Regions from separate parts of the Homo sapiens genome. Here all the other regions are linked to region 1. The links come from fine-mapping of genetic effects on gene expression. A gene starts in region 1. Each other region holds a variant in brackets. All regions are shown on one strand. Distances are between the middles of the regions.

Region 1 (2,848 bases):
GGAAAGATAGGCTGACTCTTTTTTGCCTTGCTAAAGAATGTGGAATAACCACACCATTAAAAGAAGGCTAAATAGGAGAGTAAACCAAGGATTTCTAATTCTTGATCTATACAAACATCTCTTCACGTAATGAAAATGTAACATTCCTTCCATAGACTGTAAGGTCCTTTAGCAGGGCTGGGGTTCAATCTCTTCACCTTTGTATCCGCACAGCCCAGGAAAATGCCTTGATGTAGTGAGGGCTCAGGTTTGCTAAGGTAGCAGGGGCTGTTTCTACCCTTATGAAAAGACACAGTCTATATCCAATTCTCCCCCACGATTTTAAATGACTCCTTTGATTATGCGGTTAAAAGACTGCTCCTTCCCAAAATGATGTGATTTAACAGCAAAAGATATCTCAACATAAAATGTATCCAGAAATTGAACTACAGCAGGTCTGTCACTCAGCAGTATAAGCTAGGCATCCACAGGAAGAATGTTACAGGGTGACAGCCAGTCATCAATGTTGGAGGAAACGCCACTGAGATACCATAGGCTAAATCCTCTCTCTCCCCGCCACCTGCATTTAGAGGCAATAGTAATTTAATATTAATAACGCCCGCCCTTCCGCTACTGTGAAGCAGGGGGTGGAAGAAGCATCCCCAGTAGTATTTACCAACAAATGGCAGCTGCTAATAAACAGGCTTTGGTGGCCAATCCTCCTGCATGGAAAAGAATGGGGAGATCAGAAGACCGGTCAGCAGGCGAACGTGCCCCTAAAGGCCCGAGTTCTCAGAGCAGGGCAGTGATTAACTTTCCGGTTTCTCCTCCGCCAATGTGTGGGCGAAAGGAAGTGATCCGCTACAGACCGGCCTCGCCCTGCAGCAGGAAAGGGAAGGATGAAACAAAAAGCGCACACCCTTGACCCTTCAAAGCTGTAACAGTAGTTATCCCAGAGCCTCTCCCCACCGAGAAGCCCGGTCTAACTCTCCGGTGTTTGACTGTCCGGTGTCCGACTGTCCTGTGTCCGACTCTCCGATCTCCGACTCTCGGATCTCCGACACCAAAGCACCCAGGCCTCGAGCAGATCTTTCCGCTACTCGGGAGTAAAATCTTCCCGCCAGCCAGCTGAGAGCATCCACCCTTCCGGGTCGGTCCGTTCAGCCAATCACAGATAACTCCCTTCTCTAATTGGTCAAGGGGTGTGGTCACCATGCGCGTCACCGAACAACATTACGAGTTATTGGTTGAGATTGGAAGCAGGTTTCGCCAATAGGAAGCGCTCTTAAAGCGGCAGTGAGGGTGGCTGCGTGTTTCCGGAAGACGTGGCGGCTCTCGCCTGGGCTGTTTCCCGGCTTCATTTCTCCCGACTCAGCTTCCCACCCTGGGCTTTCCGAGGTGCTGTCGCCGCTGTCCCCACCACTGCAGCCATGATCTCCTTAACGGACACGCAGAGTAAGCACCTGCTCCGGGGCCCCCGCCTCGAGCCGCGCACACCCATCGCCCGGCTGGGTCTCGCCCCTCCGCCGGGGTCAATGAATGAAGCTCTGGGTTGGGGGCGGTGGCCTGCGAGACAGAGCTAGGGCTGCTGGGACCCTAAGGGGCTGCCTTCGGGATGCCGGGGCTAGACTTGGACTGGCGGACCTGACCTGGGAGAAGAGTCTGTGGGGCAGGGTGGGACGCCCTATGTTGGGAGGGGAGCTTTAGCCCAGAGTCTGTCTCATTCCAGGGTCGCGCTGATCTCCTCATCCCCAGTGAGATGGGCGCTTTGTTCTAGGGGCTTGCCACAAGAGAAAGTTTGCGTGGTGCCCGCGGCCCACTCTCGGGATCGTTTATGCGCATGACACACTTCGGGTCCTCTACAAGTCCCTGGCTGGCTGGTTATTTGGGAGGCGGTATTTTAAATGTCACCTACAGTAGGCTCTTTTTGAAAATGTCCTTACGCTTAAATGTGGCATTTTGAATATTCGCTTTTTGCCAGTACTGTAAGCAACCTTTTAGAAGTCTCTTGAAACATTCTCACTTTTCTACCTGCTAAAGTTTCAAGCAGTAGAGAAAAGCCACTTTGTGTGCCATTAAAGGATATATTTCGTTAGTATTGTATATTGTGCTTTGTGGCTTGTTTTATTATTTTAGCATCGCTCTCTGCCTGCCACAGAGTTCTCCAGGCCTATTTCATCTCTAAAGCTAGCATTGATATCGGTTTCCTTTTCTTTCATTATAATATTTCCACTTTCCTACTGCTTTTTGTTAATATTAATAATTTTTGTATTTATGTCTGCCCAAGCTCTGTACCTCATATTTTGATGTTCATAAGAGTCTCTTTTTGTCTCACTTTGCTTTATCTGCCACGCCTTTCATTTCACTCCAGTTAACTCAGATTTTCAATATTTTAAGACTTAAACAGTGAATTGAAGTGAAAAATAGAAGTTTATTTAAAATGCCCTATTTTAAAGTGGAGTCTTCTTGTGGAGATTCAAGTCATGGCAGACCAACTTCACAGAGCTTCTAAGGCCTCCTACACACACTGCCACCCCCCAATCAGGCTGTCTTCCCTCCTGAGGCTGGACTGGGGCTGCCTCTTGGGGCCACCTGCCCCAAGGTTGCCGCCCACTTTGGTCCATTGGCCTGGCCTGTTCTGATCAAAGAAAATAAAAGTGTAGTCTTGAGGGGATAGGAATCTAGTGTAATAATAATTACTGGCAATTATATAAAGGTATTTTCTTTCAGTTAACCATGTGCTTTCATGTGAATCATTATGCATAATTCTTATAAGAGCCCTGTAAGGCTCACAGAAGCATGCCCCTTTCATAAGTTAAATGAGGCACAAAAGAAATTGAGTGCATGGTCAAAGAAAAAGTGACAGAAA
Region 2 (2,848 bases), 26 kb after region 1:
TTAAACAAATAATTTCTGCCCATCAATCATTCCTCTACTTCCTGCAATGAAGCTCCCTGGAGGAGTCATCAGATTCTCAATCTTGCTTGAAGACTGACAAGATGTCCCTGTGGACTCCCAAACTCTACTCCAGATGGGGAGGTGCCCTTAACACCAAGATTTTAAAAGCTCCAATTTCAGAGCAAGAGTCGAAAACTCACAGATAAAGTTATAGTTATTTCAGGGTTCTGAAAAGACGCAGAACATGAAGGTAAGTAAAGGCTTTATTAACTTGAGACTTCTTAGCTATTTTTTAAAACGTTTTATAGCATTTTACCTATTTCATGTTTAATAAGGATTTTAGAGTTTAAAGGATATTTGAACGATACGCCTTTAGAATAACAGAATCATTTGATTTTACTAAGAAAAAAATTCACGTATTTACTTATTCTTCATTTGGGTGAAGTAATACAAATAATATGTTTCTAAATACGTTTTTTCAAGTGGACTCTTTGTGAATTAACTAGAAGGTAGAAGGGAAACACCTCCAGAAAACTGAGTATTAAAACAGAATATTGCGAGAAGTAAGGGGGTTTATAATTGTCCAGGCGTCAAGGAAGGAAGCAGAAGATCCTATTGGCACAGAAATGACCCTTTCTGGTTGATCGCTTCATATAGGGACTCAGAAGTCTGGCAGCAACAACCTTGGCTCTTTTCCTGGTGTTTGTTTTCCTGGGAAACTCCAGCTGCGCTCCGCAGGTAATCAAATGCAAAATAAAAAATTTTAAAACAATGCGCACTGTGTGTCCACTCTGCTCTTTCTTTCTTCCTTCTTGTTTTATTCTCTTCTTTTTCCTTTATTTTGCTGTAATAGAGGACTGAGCTGCAATGTTTTATTAACTGCTCTTCCCTTCCCCCGGGCTATAGAGACTGTTGGAGAGAAGGAACTGGACTCCTCAAGCTATGCTCTACCTGAAAGGGGCACGTAAGTTCCAAATATTTCGCTCTTCCTACAATAATGGAAGACCCCTAGGAGTCAGGAACAGATAGATGGAGAGTTATGGAGAGAGAATAATGTCGAGTTTATTCCCTTAAATCATCGAGGCCATCAAAGAGACCGGTAGGTGAGGGAGGGGTGGGAGAGGGGAAGAGTCCCTGATTATTGGAAATCCTCCATCCTTATTAGAAATTCTCCATCCAAAACTGGAGGGTTGCTTCTCTTGGTCCAAATGGGGACTCGGGTTGCCTGGGAAATATCTCAGTAACCCGACCTCCGCTCCAAAGCGCCCTTGCGGCGTCCGGTCAGGCGCGGGGCTTTCCTCCAGAGCTCCAGGGC[C/T]CCTGGCTCAGCCCGGGGTTGCGCTGGGAGCGCTGGAAACTCGGCAGCCCCGCGCGACCCTATCCTGGAGCAACCTGCCCCCTCCCCACGCCCGGGGACTGCGCTGTGCCGGGAGGAGCTGAGGTTTAAGCCCGGGTTGTCCCGGGCCAGGCTGTCGCTGAGCCCCAGGTCTCGTTTTTGCAGAGGGTCGCCGCTTCATCTCCGACCAGAGCCGGAGAAAGGACCTCTCCGACCGGCCACTGCCGGGTGAGTGACCAAGGGTGCAAGGGCGCTAGTCCTGCGCTTTTGGAATAGGATGGGGCGGGCAGGGCTTGCTCCGCGCTGGTGCCGAAAGAAAGCGTCTCCTCACCGGAAAGACGCGGCTCTGAGGCGCCCTCAGATACAGTCCGCCCGAGGGCAGCCCGGGTTGGCAGCAGCAGCAGCTGGATGCCGAGCGCCGGAGCTGGGAGCTCGCGCGTCCAGCCCCGCGCCAATGGTGGCAAGGGCGGCCCAGGCTGGCGCTGCGGCTCCCCAAGCCTTATTGGCTTGCGGCTGTTCAGCCAGCCCTCTGGCTGCCAGGGTGTGCAGAGGTCCCCAGGGAGTTAGGACCTGAGGTGCAGCTCAGAGGGGTAAGGCGAGATAGGAAGAACTATGCAAATGCTTCTAGAAATGTATCTGCGCGTTTGTGCAGGAACTTTACTCAGCCTCCTCTTAAACGCTGTTATTATTAAAATAAGAACTTACCTAGGAACTTCAAATGTATGCTTTTGTTTGACTAGAAAGAACTATCAAAGGTTCAAAATCAAAAGAGTAACATGCGGGCAGTTAAGGATGGGACCGGGGACTGTTCTTTTTCATGATAAACCTTTCCATCGTATTGTATTAACAAATAACAATACAATTTGATGAAATTGTAAAGATTGAAATGCTAAAATTAAAAAGTATACTTACTTGGAAAAATACCAAACACTGTTGAACACATAGTAGGTGCTTAAATTTTTGTTTAGGCTCTTCAAACATGCTGTGTAATTGAGCTTATTTATTTTATGAGGTTAAGATTTGTTTCTCAACTTCAGTTGCCCCAAATTAGAAATCATGTTTTGTGCTGAATCAGAACAATTTGTCTTTTTTCAACTTAGATTTGAAATAACTTTGAGTTCTTAGCAGATACTCCTTCAGTCAAATAATTACCTTATATTTGGCCGCAAAGGTTAAATTATTATCTAAAATTCTCTTTGGCATATAGTTTAACATTCTCTTCCATACCCTGTTTGTAAACTTGACATAACCAATTGTAAGTCATTTCCAAGGCAATTGTGACATGTTAAAAAATTAGTCTTCTGTGTAAGTAGTCCTTTGTTGAGGGGTCAAAATCTATTTCATAGAGGTTTTTCTAGTATTGCTGCATGTTAGAATAGGACTTATCTACATCAATATATAAATGCTAAGAGAATCTGTATACATTTTTGTTTCTGCAGAAAGACGAAGCCCAAATCCCCAACTACTAACTATTCCGGAGGCAGCAACCATCTTACTGGCGTCCCTTCAGAAATC
Region 3 (2,500 bases), 23 kb before region 1:
ACATTACTCTTGGTCACGGTGGACTCAAGAGACAGTGGGTATAGCCACAGTGTTTTAATTTATTACAACTAACAAAAGATAAAACAGGCCATCAGACAAACCCCTGCTACCACCTAGTGTCATCAGACCAAAAAAATCTTGGTAAGGGCGGCACTGCTTTGTATATAACCTATTTCTCGGAAACCATTCTAGGCTCAAACTTGTTATAAGCATCTACATCACTAGATAAATTGTCACTTAAACTATTTGGAGGAAACTGAAAAAAATGTGGTAGAAATTGCTTACATGCTAAGTAGAGGACTACTATGAAAACAAAGAGGACAGAGCAGCTGCTTGGGAAGTGAAGATTTCAAGGAGATAATACTTGAGTTGTGTCTTAAGAGAATGAGCAGAAGTTCACTAGGAAGAGACGAACATCACGCAGAGGAAACAGCATATACACTGCAAATACACTGACATGAAATTAGTATGTTCAGATAACAGCAAGCAGTTCACTGGGGCTAAGTCACAGAGTCTTGTGGTGGATGGATTTACTGTCCAATCCATTAAGCTGTGAATTACATCTCCCAGAATCTCTTTCCTGTTCCAAGTTAGAGCTGACCCAAAAGAGGGACTTGTGCAAGATTTGGTGGCAGAAGTGAACCAGCTAACATCACTCCTTCAAGGTCTTTACACGCAGAGAGGATGATGGACAGATGCAGAAGTGCTCAGCCAGTTCTAGGTCATCCTAGTTCTTTTCCATTCCTCATTCAGCTGTTCCTCCCAACTGCAGGTCCTGCCAATCAACAGCAGACCCACAGAGGCGATAGCTACTCACAGGAAGTAGCTTACCAGAGACCTTTCCACGAGCTTCCCTTTAGGGGTCCCCTTTGCCACTGTACATGCCAGCTGCAGATTTCCCTACAAGCTCCGCCTCGTCCTCCTGCACCAGTGCTTAGGTATCAATCCATTACTTTTCTCTAATCCTCCAACTCCCCTCTTCAGACCTGCACTTCCCCAGTTCCTCCCACAATTGTTCAAGATCTACTTCCTACAGTAAAACCGTTATCCCATAACATTCATCGTGACTCTGCTTCTCTGCCTGAACCCTGACTGACACTGTTATGTACAAGGCAGGTTTAAGAAAAGCTATGAACAATTCAACCAGTTGATTCTAAGCTGAGACTTTATCCTACAGGAAATGAGGAATCATCATGTA[AT/A]TTTTTTTTTTTTTTTTTTTGAGATGGAGTCTCACTCTGTCACCCAGGTTGGAGTGCAGTGACACGATCTTGGCTCACTGCAAGCTCCACCTCCCGGGTTCACGCCATTCTCCCGCCTTAGCCTTTCGAGTAGCTGGGATTACAGGCATACACCGCCACACCTGGCTAATTTTTATATTTTTAGTAGAGACGGGGTTTCACCACGTTGGCCAGGCTGGTCTTGAATTCCTGACCTCAGGTGATCCGCCCGCCTCGGCCTCCCAAAGTGCTGGGATTACAGGCGTGAGCCACCGCACCGAGCCCATCATGTAATTTTTAAAGACCTATGCTTCATAAATCATCTTTTGGTGACAGTGCAAAATACAGACTGGAATAGACAAAACACTGAAGGAAAACCAGTTAAAAGATGGCAGTAACAGACCAGAAAACAAATAATACAGAATATAAAATGAGACATGACATTCAGGATAAATCAAAAAGAGTAAAGAGACATACATGAACCTACAGGTCCTAGTGACTACTGGGATATGGAGGTGGCAGGGAAGAGGGAGACAGTGCTGGATTTACCCATTCATCAATAGATAAATGTTGAACACCTTTTTAATTGTGTGCCAAGCATTTCCCTAGGCACTGAAGATAAAGTGATGAACAAGACAAAAATGCTATGCAAATGTGTCTATAATTCAAGCAAAGAAACAAGACAATACAAAGAGTAAACCAATAAATATGCCATTAGAGAGTGGTAAGTGCTCATAATGATAAGCCCAGTATGCTGGGGCTTAAGAAGAGAGGAAGAGTAGGAAATCAGGTAGACAGATGGGGGCAGATCACATATTACCCTATGGGCCCCAGTTAAGAACGCTGGGTTTTATTCTAAGTACACAGTAGCTACTGGGTAGTTTAGGTAGGGAAGTAACATGATTTGATGTGTATTTAGAAAATATCACTGGTTGCTCTGTGGAGAATGAACAAAAAGTGTAAGAACGGAATCAAAGACTACTTAGGAAGCTGCTGCAGTAGACCAGTGGAAGGGAGCTCAACTGTATGTAAGACGTAGGTGCACAGAGAGTAGACAAACTTGAGATTCATTCTAGAGGCAGAGCTGACAACACTTAGTGGTGGACTGGATCTGCAAAGGGAGGGTAAATCAAGGACGGTGTGTCATCCATTTTTTTTTTGTCATCTCTAACCCCACCCTTCTATACTGTGCTTTGGGATGCTGCACCAAGGACTCTGCACACTACGCATCAGCTTTGCCTGCTGGCCCTGGATGGAAGACACCATGGCTGCTTCCTCCCTAA

Which allele goes with the higher level. Positions count from the first base shown, and alleles are read on the strand shown. Sizes are in standard deviations (SD) of each study's normalised expression. Not every link is listed here.
As copies of A replace AT in region 3, the expression in lymphoblastoid cells of the gene that starts at base 1,275 in region 1 goes down (small effect, 0.33 SD a copy in GEUVADIS).

Evidence for each region.
Region 2: its variant is fine-mapped to the expression of GOLT1B in lymphoblastoid cells (GTEx, PIP above 0.99). The same link has a PIP of 0.9 or more in B cells, T cells, monocytes and whole blood.
Region 3: its variant is fine-mapped to the expression of GOLT1B in lymphoblastoid cells (GEUVADIS, PIP 0.95).

What each region holds. Positions count from the first base shown.
Region 1 is chr12:21,500,515-21,503,362 of GRCh38, forward strand. GOLT1B (golgi transport 1B) reads left to right here and starts at 1,275. Exons shown (of 5, transcript NM_016072.5): 1 at 1,275-1,434. The coding sequence starts at 1,410. It overlaps RECQL (RecQ like helicase), which reads right to left and starts at 1,121. Exons shown (of 15, transcript NM_002907.4): 1 at 656-1,121. RefSeq lists enhancers at 405-474, 495-544, 585-774, 915-974, 925-1,632 and 2 more.
Region 2 is chr12:21,526,229-21,529,076 of GRCh38, forward strand. SPX (spexin hormone) reads left to right here and starts at 68. Exons shown (of 6, transcript NM_030572.4): 1 at 68-250; 2 at 658-738; 3 at 907-964; 4 at 1,499-1,561; 5 at 2,773-2,848. The coding sequence starts at 245. The variant C/T (reference allele first, on the strand shown) is at 1,316.
Region 3 is chr12:21,478,152-21,480,651 of GRCh38, forward strand. The region is part of intron 6 of RECQL (RecQ like helicase); the gene reads right to left. Among named protein-coding and RNA genes, the nearest start is that of RECQL, 22 kb to the right of the region's middle. The variant AT/A (reference allele first, on the strand shown) is at 1,199.